Regions from separate parts of the Homo sapiens genome. Here region 2 is reported to be linked to region 1. Evidence: microRNA targets listed by miRTarBase, many of them from high-throughput screens and not tested one by one. Region 1 holds a microRNA gene; the other region holds the end of a gene's coding sequence.

Evidence for each region. The annotated mature microRNA hsa-miR-1269b reads CUGGACUGAGCCAUGCUACUGG and lies in region 1 at 3,726-3,747, opposite strand. An mRNA with a match to its seed (bases 2 to 7 or 8) in the 3' UTR can be bound and repressed. Matches are read on the target gene's strand: a 7mer-m8 pairs with bases 2 to 8, a 7mer-A1 pairs with bases 2 to 7 and ends in A, and an 8mer does both.
Region 2: the mRNA of SPANXN5 is a reported target of hsa-miR-1269b. Seed matches in the 3' UTR shown: 8mer at 4,757-4,764.

Annotation. Positions count from the first base shown.
Region 1 is chr17:12,913,588-12,918,663 of GRCh38, forward strand. MIR1269B (microRNA 1269b) reads right to left here and starts at 3,755; the gene lies at 3,681-3,755. It overlaps ARHGAP44 (Rho GTPase activating protein 44), which reads left to right. Exons shown (of 21, transcript NM_014859.6): 5 at 2,313-2,424.
Region 2 is chrX:52,791,708-52,796,774 of GRCh38, forward strand. It overlaps SPANXN5 (SPANX family member N5), which reads right to left. Exons shown (of 2, transcript NM_001009616.4): 2 at 4,437-4,924. The coding sequence ends at 4,781. Among named protein-coding and RNA genes, the nearest start is that of SPANXN5, 3.2 kb to the right of the region's middle.

The sequences.
Region 1 (5,076 bases):
AAATATGGAATAAATACCAGAAAATCAGATATAAGACACCATTAAGCTGGGTGCAGTGGCTCACGCCTGTAATCCTAACACTTTGGGAGGCCGAGGCAGGTGGATTACCTGGGCTCACGCCTGTAATCCTAACACTTTGGGAGGCCGAGGCAGGTGGATTACCTGAGGTCCAGAGTTCAAGACTAGCCTGGCCAACATGGTGAAACCCTGTCTCTACTAAAAATATAAAAAATTAGCTGGGTGCAGTGGTGCACACCTGTAATCCCAGCCACTCGGGAGGCTGAAGCAAGAGAATTGCTTGCACCCGGGAGGTGGAGTTTGTGGTGAGCCAAGTACGCGTCACTGCACTCCAGCCTGGGTGATAGAGTGAGATTTTGTCTCAAAAAAAAAAAAAAAAAAAAAAGGCACCATTAAAGACATACAAAGATAAAAGCACACCTGGGCACTGACATTTGTAGCAGATAGGAAAAAGAGTGAAAATCTGCCTTCACACACGTGTGTATATGAAGTTCCTACAAATAAATTCAAATAAATAGATCCTAATACAAAAATAGCCAAGGAATATGAACAGGCACTTCATGGGAGAGGGATATTAAGTCTTACTAGCAGTCAAGGAATGTAAATTAAAACCAGAAGGAGATAATAATTTGTATCCACCAGTTTAACAGAAATTAAGACACCTACCAGGACCAAGGGTTGGCAAGGGCATAGGGCAATGGGAACTCCCATTTGTGCTAGTGAAATTTCCAAACATGCACAAAGAGACTGCACAAGCATATTTACTGAAGCGCTGCATGTAATAGCCAAAAACTCTTGTTTGTGGGACAGCTTAACATAATGGTGGTATATTCAAAGAACGAAATTCTCCATTGCAAAATGATCTGATTCCGCATGTACCAACATGGGTAAGCTCCAGACATAATGATAGAGTAAAAAAGCAAGGCTGCCTGTAGTCCCAGCACTTTGGGAGGCCGAGGTGGGTGGATCACCTGAGGTCAGGAGTTCGAGACCAGTCTGGCCAACATGGTGAAACCCCATGTCTACTAAAAATACAAAAAATTAGCCGGGTGTGGTGGCAGCCTCCTGTAATCCCAGCTACTCAGGAGGCTGAGGCAGGAGAATGGCTTGAACCCAGGAGGCGGAGGTTGCAGTGAGCCAAGATCGTGCCACTGTACTCCAGCCTAGGCAACAAGAGTGAAACTCCATCTCAAGAAAAAAAAAAAAAAACCTCAAAAAAAAAATCCAAACAAAAAAAGCAAGTAGCATCAGGATATGCTCAGTATAAAACCATGCATGTAGACTGAACTAAGCAAAGCAGCAGTATTATATATTGTATGGGGACACATACATGTAGAGTAAAAATGTGAAAATCTGAACAGGAAAGGAATATCCTCACAGTAAAAAGGCAGTTACCTCTGCTCATACGTTTGTTGACTTGTAAAAGCTTTTTTGTTTGTTTATGTGTTTTTGAGACAGGGTCTCGCTCTGTCACCCCGGCTGGAGTGCAGTGGCACTATCTAGGCTCACTACAGCCTCTGCCTCCCAGGTACAAGTGATTCTCGTGCCTCAGCCTCCAGAGAAGCTGGGTCTACAGGCATGTACCACCATGCCCAGCTGAGTTTGATATTTTTAGTAGAGGCGGGGTTTCACCATGTTGCCCAGGCTGGTTTGTAATAACTTTTTACTTGAGTTTTAGTTAAAATGGGTACCAGACAATGGGAGAATGGCCTGTGTACAATTTGGGTAGAATTTAACATCTTTGAAATAGTATATTGTGTCATCTGGGAAGATGGCATGACTTTCTACTCATTCAGGTCTTCTGTCGTTTGCTCATTATTAATCAACTTTTGGATTTTTTTTCATTGGATAATTGTCTATATATCCATGTACTAATTACATTTTCGTGGCTTAGGAGTCAGGGCTTTCTTTCTATCAGGACCTATTGAAATTGAGCTTTTGCTTTGTATTTGAAGATGATGTTTTTTTAGCGGGCAGATTTTAGCTATCCAATGTTCTCCTCAGAGATAGAAGCATGTGTTTATAGGCATGTGTGTCTGTTTTCTCTCTCATGTTTCCCCACATTTCCCCTTGTGCCCCAGGCACACAATGAGTGGCACCTTTTGGAAGAATTGATTATTTCAGAAATGCAGAGAGCTGGAACAGGTTGGCCCAGGGGAAGCCATGGAGATCAGCCAGCTTATTAACACTGACTTGTGAAAGTTTACAAGTGAGCCAGGAGGTGAGGGGAGGGTAACGCCAGTGAAATGTTGTCTTCAAGAGTATTCACTATTTCTTTCCCCCTTGGATTACAGGAAGATGCTGAAACTCTGTGGAGAGACGGAGGACAAGCTGGCTCAGGAGCTGATACATTTTGAGTTGCAAGTAGAGAGAGACGTGATTGAGCCCCTGTTTTTGCTGGCGGAGGTAAGCAGCAGGAGTGAGGCCAGGCCTGAAAGAGCAAGGAGGTACCGAACAGGAGCCCCTCAATCATTCTGTTTCCAGCATTCTACTTCTTTCCCTTAACCTTCTCCCCAACATTGTTTTTCATCAGGGATTCTTACCTAACCACATGGTCAAGATTCCCAAATATGTCCTTTTAGCATTTGCTACCCCTTCTCCTACCCATTCTCTTCCCTGCAGGCATTCCTAGAAGTAAGGTGGAAAGCTGGCAGCTTACCCGCTTCCCCACCCACAGCCTCGACTGCCTTCATCCCCACCTTCCACCCATCTCAAGTCTTCAGTGCTGTGAACAGCAGCCACTCCTTACTAGGATTCTGGGGGCCCAGGCCTCCTGCAGTTTTATGTTTTTTTTTTGAGATGGAGTCTTGCTCTGTCACCCAGGCTGGAGTGCAGTGGTACGATCATGGTTCACTGCAACCTCCGCCTCCCAGGTTCAAGTGATTCTCCTGTCTCAAGCCTCCCAAGTAGCTGGGATTATAGGCACCCACCACCATGCCCATTTAATTATTATATTTTTAGTAGAGACGGGGTTTCACCATGTTGGCCAGGCTGGTCTCGAACTCCTGACCTCAGGCGATCCACCCGCCTTGGCCTCCCAAAGTGCTGGGATTATAGGCGTGAGCCATCGTGCCCAGCTGCAGTGTATGTTTATATGGGTCCCTTGTCTTTGGACTTTAAAGGACACTCAATTAAACTATTTTATTAAAAAGCAACCTTAATGCCTATGTGAAAACTTTGCTAGCTTCAGCCAAGTGAAAGCTTCTCACGGGAGATAGGAAATGCTTGGGGAGCTTTGAACCCTGAATCCCTCTCAGTTGTTTTTAATTCGTCATCTGTTAATAGATTGAGCATCTCAAACCTGAAACAATCCGAAATCTGAAATATTTTGAGCACCAACATGATTCTTAAAGGAAATGCTCATTAGAGCATTTTGGATTTCACATATTCGGATTTGAGATGCTCAACCGGTAAATATGATGCAAATATTCCAAAATCCCAAAAACTCCCAATCCCAAATATTTCTGGTCCCAAGCATTTCAGATAAGGGACACTCCATCTATATAAAATCTAACCAGCACTATCCCCTAGAACTCTGTATTAGTCAGGGTTCTCCAGAGAGAGAGAACCAACAGGATATATGAGAGGGGTTTCTCCCCTATTAGGGGAAGTTGGGATTCTCCCCTATTAGGGGAAGTTGGCTCACATAATCACAGAGGGGGAGAGGTCCCATGATAAGCCATCTGTAAGCTGGAGAACCAGAGAAGCCAGTAGCATGGCTCAGTCCAGAAACCTCAGAACCCGAAACTCAGTCCAGGAACCTCAGAAGCTGATCGTGCAGCCCCGAATATGAGGTGGAAAGCCAGAGAGACCCCCATTAAATGTCAAAGAACCTGGAGTCTGATGAGGGGAAAAGGCATCTCACTACGGGAGGGAGGGAGAGAGAGAGCAGAGAGAGAATCCTCCTTCTTCCACCTGTGTGTTTCAGCTAATTGGATGGTACCGCTCCATTGTGGGTGGGTCTTTCTCCCAGCCTGCTGACTCACACATTGGTCTCTTTTGGAAACACCCTCTCAGCTACACCCGGAAAAATACGTCACTAGCCTTTGAGGCATCCATCAGTCCAGCCAAGTTGACACCTAAAATTAACCCTCGCAGACTCCCTACAATGATGGAAATATTCTCAATCTGTGCCGTTTGATAGCCACTGCCCTTAAGTGGTTTTTGAGCACCAGTGCGATTCAGGAACTCAATTTTTTAGTTTCTTTAATTTTCGTTAATTTAAATTTAGAATTTCATAGCTACGTGCGGTTAGAGGCTACTGTATTAAACTGCCTTGCCCTAGACCCTGTCTGGCTTCCTCTCTGAACCACAACGAGCACCTCCACATCCCCTGACACTCTCTCTGGGACAGAGGTATGGGCCGGTAATTACTTATGGACCTGAAACTATTCAAGGAGAAAATCGTGGATGAAGTTCTTTGGGATTGACCAGCTCTCAGCTTCTCAAGTCATCTCCTCGCTTGGAGCATTCACGAGGTCCCCTCTGTGCCTCAAAAGGAGGGTCCCGGGTCTGGCCAAAGCCTAAAGCAAACCAAGGAGCAAGTCCGTTGTGGGTGCTGACAGTCACTTGGCTCAAGCAAGATACCCAGTGGCCCTCCAGCTTAGCTTCGGAGCTGGGTGGTGACTCAGGTTGCCTGGGGACAGTTACACTTCTCCTTCCTACTGGAAGTTGTTACACGCAGAACATTACTCATCCCTGCTCGGGAGAGTGAATAGAAAGCACTTCAGAGAACATTGGATTCTCCTCGAATTTTTTCCTTATATAAAAACCGCAGCCCGAGATGATTTTAGTTCAATTTTCGGCCAATTTTCGTTTTGCATTCTCACATCCTGCCCTACTTTTGCTGGGCCCGGAACCAAAATCCTGCACTGGGATGTTCAGTGAAGCCATTTTTAGAATGAAAAAATATAAAAAGAGCATCTACATACAACCAAAATGGAAGAACTCGTAGCCGAGAAAAGCCATGATGGCAATGTTTATTCATTATTGACTGGAAAAGTCTTACTTTATTTCTATAAATATAAACATTTGCTTCCTTTCTTTTTATAAATATAG
Region 2 (5,067 bases), not on the chromosome of region 1:
TAGGGAGGGCAGGCAGTCGTGGTCACAGCAGGGACAGTGGGAGACAGAGATATGCAGGGTGGGCAGAAGAGGGGCAGGCAAAGAAGCAGGGGAGACCCAAGGCCAAGTGTGGGCTGTCACAGCCACCAGAGGGAGAGGATGCCAGGAAGGAGGTTGTGGGGCTCCAGGAGCAAGAGGTTCCCCAGATCTGTGAGCATGCCCTGCCTGGCACTGCAGGAAGAGGTGGCTGCCACCCAGGTCAGTGTGGACGTACCTCTACCTGTGTCTCAGAGGAAACAAATTCGATTTTATCCCAATATAGTTCTGTATTACCCAAATGTAACATTCGGCTACTAGATATTGAATACCGTATCCTCCATGCAAATAGAGGAGAGCATACCCTAAAAAAGATAATGAAGGATTTGATTTTTCTTTCTCCCTGGGACGATGGGATCCATAAGTTGGTTCCCCAAGCCCACAAGACAGATACAAGGAAGGGTGGCTGGAAGATTGTGAGTTATGACAGGCAACATTTTTCCTTAGGTTCCATGGGTATATAAAGCTCCGGACTATCTGTCTATCATGGATAGATAAAGAGTGAACATGGTCCCCTCTCCACAAATGTGTTTCTCTCCTTGTGAAGGGCTGAAGTTACACCAAGTTCTGATACGTTACATTTGTGTGTGTGTGTGTGTGTGTGTGTGTGTGTGTGTTGTTGTTGTTGTTGTTGTTGTTGTTGTTTTCTTTCTTTCTTTTTTTTCTTTTTTGACATGATCACACTCTGTCGCCCAGGCTGGAGTGCGGTGATGCAAGTACAGCTCACTGCAGCCTGGATCTCCCAGGCTCAAGGGATTCTCCCACTTCAGCTTCCGATCTAGTTGGGACTACAGGCACACGCCACCACACCCAGCTAGTTTTTTATTTTTGGTAGAGACAGCATCCACTATGTTGCCCAGGCTGGTCTCGATCTCCTGGCCTCAGGCAATCCTCCTGCCTCAGCCTCCCAAAGTGCTGGGATGACAAGTGTGAGCCACCTCGCCAGGCCTTCACTTTCTTTAATGAACAATTATCAGAGTTTCATCTTAGAGGCAAAAGTGGCTACTGCCAGCCAATCTGAGGATGGTGTTGGAGGGGACTCTGGCCGATTCAGATGTTTCTAATGAACTTTTAAATTAACCTACCTGATGATTATCCTAAGGCCCTTTCCAGCTCCGTGTTTTTTTGATTCAGGGTTTGGAGTTTTTCAGAGGCTTTGTTACAAAGATCATCTCCTGGGCAGGCACGGTGTCCCATGCTGTAATGTCAGCACTTTGGGAGGCCGAGGCAGGCAGATCACTTGAGGTCAGGAGTTGGAGACTAGCCTGGCCAACAGGGTGAAACCCCCGTCTCTACTAAAAATACAAAAATCAGCTGGCCGTGGTGGCAGGCCTCTGTGAATTCCAGTTACAGTGGGGAGTGAAGCAGGAGAATCCCTTGAACCTGGGAGATAGAGTGTGCAGTGAGCTGAGATCACGCCACTGCACTCCAGCCTGGGCGACGGAGTAAGTCTTTGTCTCAAACAGCATCTCTCGTCTACAGTGATGCTCTTGTCTCCTTGGGTTTCTCTACCAGTCTGATCACATCTACTCTATCTCCCAGGAATGCCTCAATATTTCTGGTGAACCACTGACACGTTTTCTTATTTTCCTCTACTCTTGAGAATTGACCCTTGAAAACATTTTCTTCCCAGTTCAATGGAATGTTGAGTGGGGCACGGGATCTATCTGCCATCTTGCTCCAATCATCTGGTTTTAGATATTTTATGTATATTTGTCACTATATAAGTGTAATTTTTCTCAATTTGGTTTTCTAAATCGTTAATATTGGTATGTAGAAAAAACCTATCTATATATATATAATATTTTGTTACCTGTCTGGGTGCAGCTTCCCCTGCATTTTGGCACAAGACTCAATATGTTTTATTCTCCAAAAGGAAAGTGACAGGCTGGGCGCGGTGGCTCACGCCAGTAATCCCAGCACTTTAGGAGACTGAGGCGGGTGGATCACCTGAGGTCAGGGGTTCAAGACCAGCCTGGCCAAGATGGTGAACCCCTTTCTCTACTAAAAATACAATAAAATAAAAAAAATTAGCAAGGCATTGGTGGTGCGCACCTGTAGTCCCAGCTACTAGGGCAGCTGAGGCGGGAGGATCATTTGAACTCGGGAGGCGGAGATTGCAGTGAGTCGAGATCGCACCACTGCACTCCAGCCCGGGCAACAGAGACTCTATCTCTAAATAAAAAAGATAAAGAAAAAAAGAAAATTCACTTCACAGGCAATAGAGAGTTATAAAAGGATACTTTATGGATGATTTCATAGGGGAGAATGATGGAAAGAAAGGATATAAACATATATATATATATAACAGAGCTGAGCAATTCACTGGAACAATCACCAGAACTGCCTTTTTCTCCAAAAATAGTACCCCTAAGCTATACTACTACTGGTTCTTCTAGTCCTTCCCTCTATTCCACATCCTCAAATTGTCCATTTTCTTATTGGGATAATTTTCCTCTGCCCAGATCTGGGTCCTCCACAACACTTAACACTGTCTTCGAGTGTTTGAATGCCCATTGCTTTAGCTCAGATTCCCAAGGAAACAGGCTTTGGGCCATACAGGACACCTCTAGACAGACTATACTGAGAAACAATGCCTGGAATGGTACATGGGGAGAGGAGAGGAGAGGAGAGGGAATTACGTACCTGACTCTCACTCCTGGTTCCTTTTCTTATTGGTCAAAATTTACCCCACAGGTGCGAACTCCCCTACACTTCTAGATTGCATCAACTGCCCCTTTGACAGCTGTCTAGGAAGCCAGATCCCACACTTTGAAGTGTAGTGTTTCATACAATCCAAAAGTGGTAGCAGAGGCCAGGCGTGGTGGCTCACGCCTGTAATCCCAGCACTGTGGGAGGCCAAGGCAGGCGGATCATGAGGTCAGGAGATCGAGACCATCCTGGCCAGCATGGTGAAACCCCGTCTCTACTAAAAATACAGAAATTAGCTGGGCATGATGGTGCACGCCTGTAATCCCAGCTACTCGGGAGGCTGAGGAAGGAGAATCGCTGGACCCTGGGCGGCAGAGGTTGCAATGAGCTGAGATTGCACCATTGCACTCCAGCCTGGGCAACAGAGGGCGATTCCACCTCAAAAACAAACAAACAAAAACAAAACAAAAAATAAAAAGTGGTAGCAGAAATCAGAAAGTCCAGATATGTAGGTAATTGGCCTTGTTGTACAGCAGCAGCCAAGGGTGAACACTAAATGCTCCCAGGCAAGTCCTAAGTTCATCGAGTAACTGGAGTACCCATCTGTGTTAGTTAATTGCCTTTATCTGAAGGAAAAATAAAACTCATATCTCTATGACAAGCAGGTGCTTACGGCTTGGAGCAAGGCACCTAAGTTAAACTCCCCTGGTGACAGGGAGACAAAGACATCATCTTCCTCAACGTTCACCTTTCAAAGAGATGCTCCATGGCCCTGAAGAAAGACATTCCTGGTGGCGGTGTTTGGTAGCTCACACCTGTAATCCCAACACTTTGGGAGGCTGAGGCTGGAGGATCACTTGAGGCCTGGAGTTCAAGTTCAAGACATTCCTGGGTTATAGGGTGGCCAGAGGCTTACATATCAAAGGAAGAATTTATAAATACAAATTTTCTCAAGGAAATGCTCTAAGGAAAGTGAAATGGGGAAGGTCTCTTCTTGCTCTTTTGGCAACAGGAAAATCTCAATTTTATGTTTAGTTACCCTTACAATTTCCCCCTTTTGTTATTCTTTTATAGTAACAGTACAATTTTCTAGTTATCTCCACTGCTTTGAAATGAGGCTCATTGGCACTGGAGAAGCTGGTTCATTCACACAGTCAGCTTCACATTCCCTCTTTTGATCAAGATCTTTCTTTGAAAACCTCACAAACCTGAGGTGATCCACCCACCTCAGCCTCCCAAACTGCTGGGATTACAGGCGCAAGCCACTGTGCCCGGCCCTATAACCAATGTTTTTAATTGTATCCCTCTAGAGAGAGTGAGCAGAGGTGTCTGTGTATGTCTGTATTGTGCTTTGTGTTTTACAGAACATTAACTCTTTATAAAGCATATATTTCTAACCTAGGAAAATATCAAATGGAAAAGGGATGGGAATACCTTTGATATGTACATTCAGCAGAACTATGTGCTGCCGGGTACAGTTGCATGAACATATACACATCTCCACTTCCTGTGGGAGGAAATTTTAAGAAGAAAATTTTCTTTAGGAATCAGTGCTCCCCCAGGCCTTATTTACAATGTCTGGCTTACTGTCAACCTGTGAGTCTGTCCACCAACCCTACAGGACCTCATATCCCTCCCTTCTCAAATGCCTACCTCTTCCCTTCCCTTCTCCCCCACCATCAGAAAACAGGCATAGATATATGCAGCCATCAGCTTCTCAAACTTGATTTTATTGTAATCATCACCGTTGGTGGTGAGGATTTGTCCAATTTGGTTTCTCCATGTTTAATTAGTCTTCCTCACCCTCCTCTGACGATCCTTCAGATGAGTCTGGGTCTTCTTCCTCCATCAAAGATCCTTCAGATGAGTCTAGGTCTTCATCCTCTTGTGAAGATCCTTCAGATAACCCTAGGTCTTCATCCTCCTGTGAAGATCCTTCAGGTAATTGTAGGTCTTCATCCTGCTTTGAAGATTCTGCAGATGAGTCTAGGTCTTCGTCCTCCTGTGAGGATCCTTCGTCCTCCTCCTCTTGGACTGGATTGATGGAGTTCTCTCAGGACTGGTCATTCTCGAGTTGATTTGAATGTATTTTCTTAGTCTTCCTGTAGCACAACACTAATACTGTTGAATATTCTGATGTTTTCATCTTTTTCAAACTCGGTTCGAGGACTAAGTCCCTGTTTGGTGTCTCCTGCATCTGTTAAGAAAACAGGGAGAGGCCAGAAAGACATTATTTTGGGTGAATAGGATAGAGACTGGATAGCAAGGGGGGCTTTATGAGAAGGAATGCAGGTTGAGGAAGGGGTTCGATCCAGAGAAGAACAAGGTTGACTCACAGGG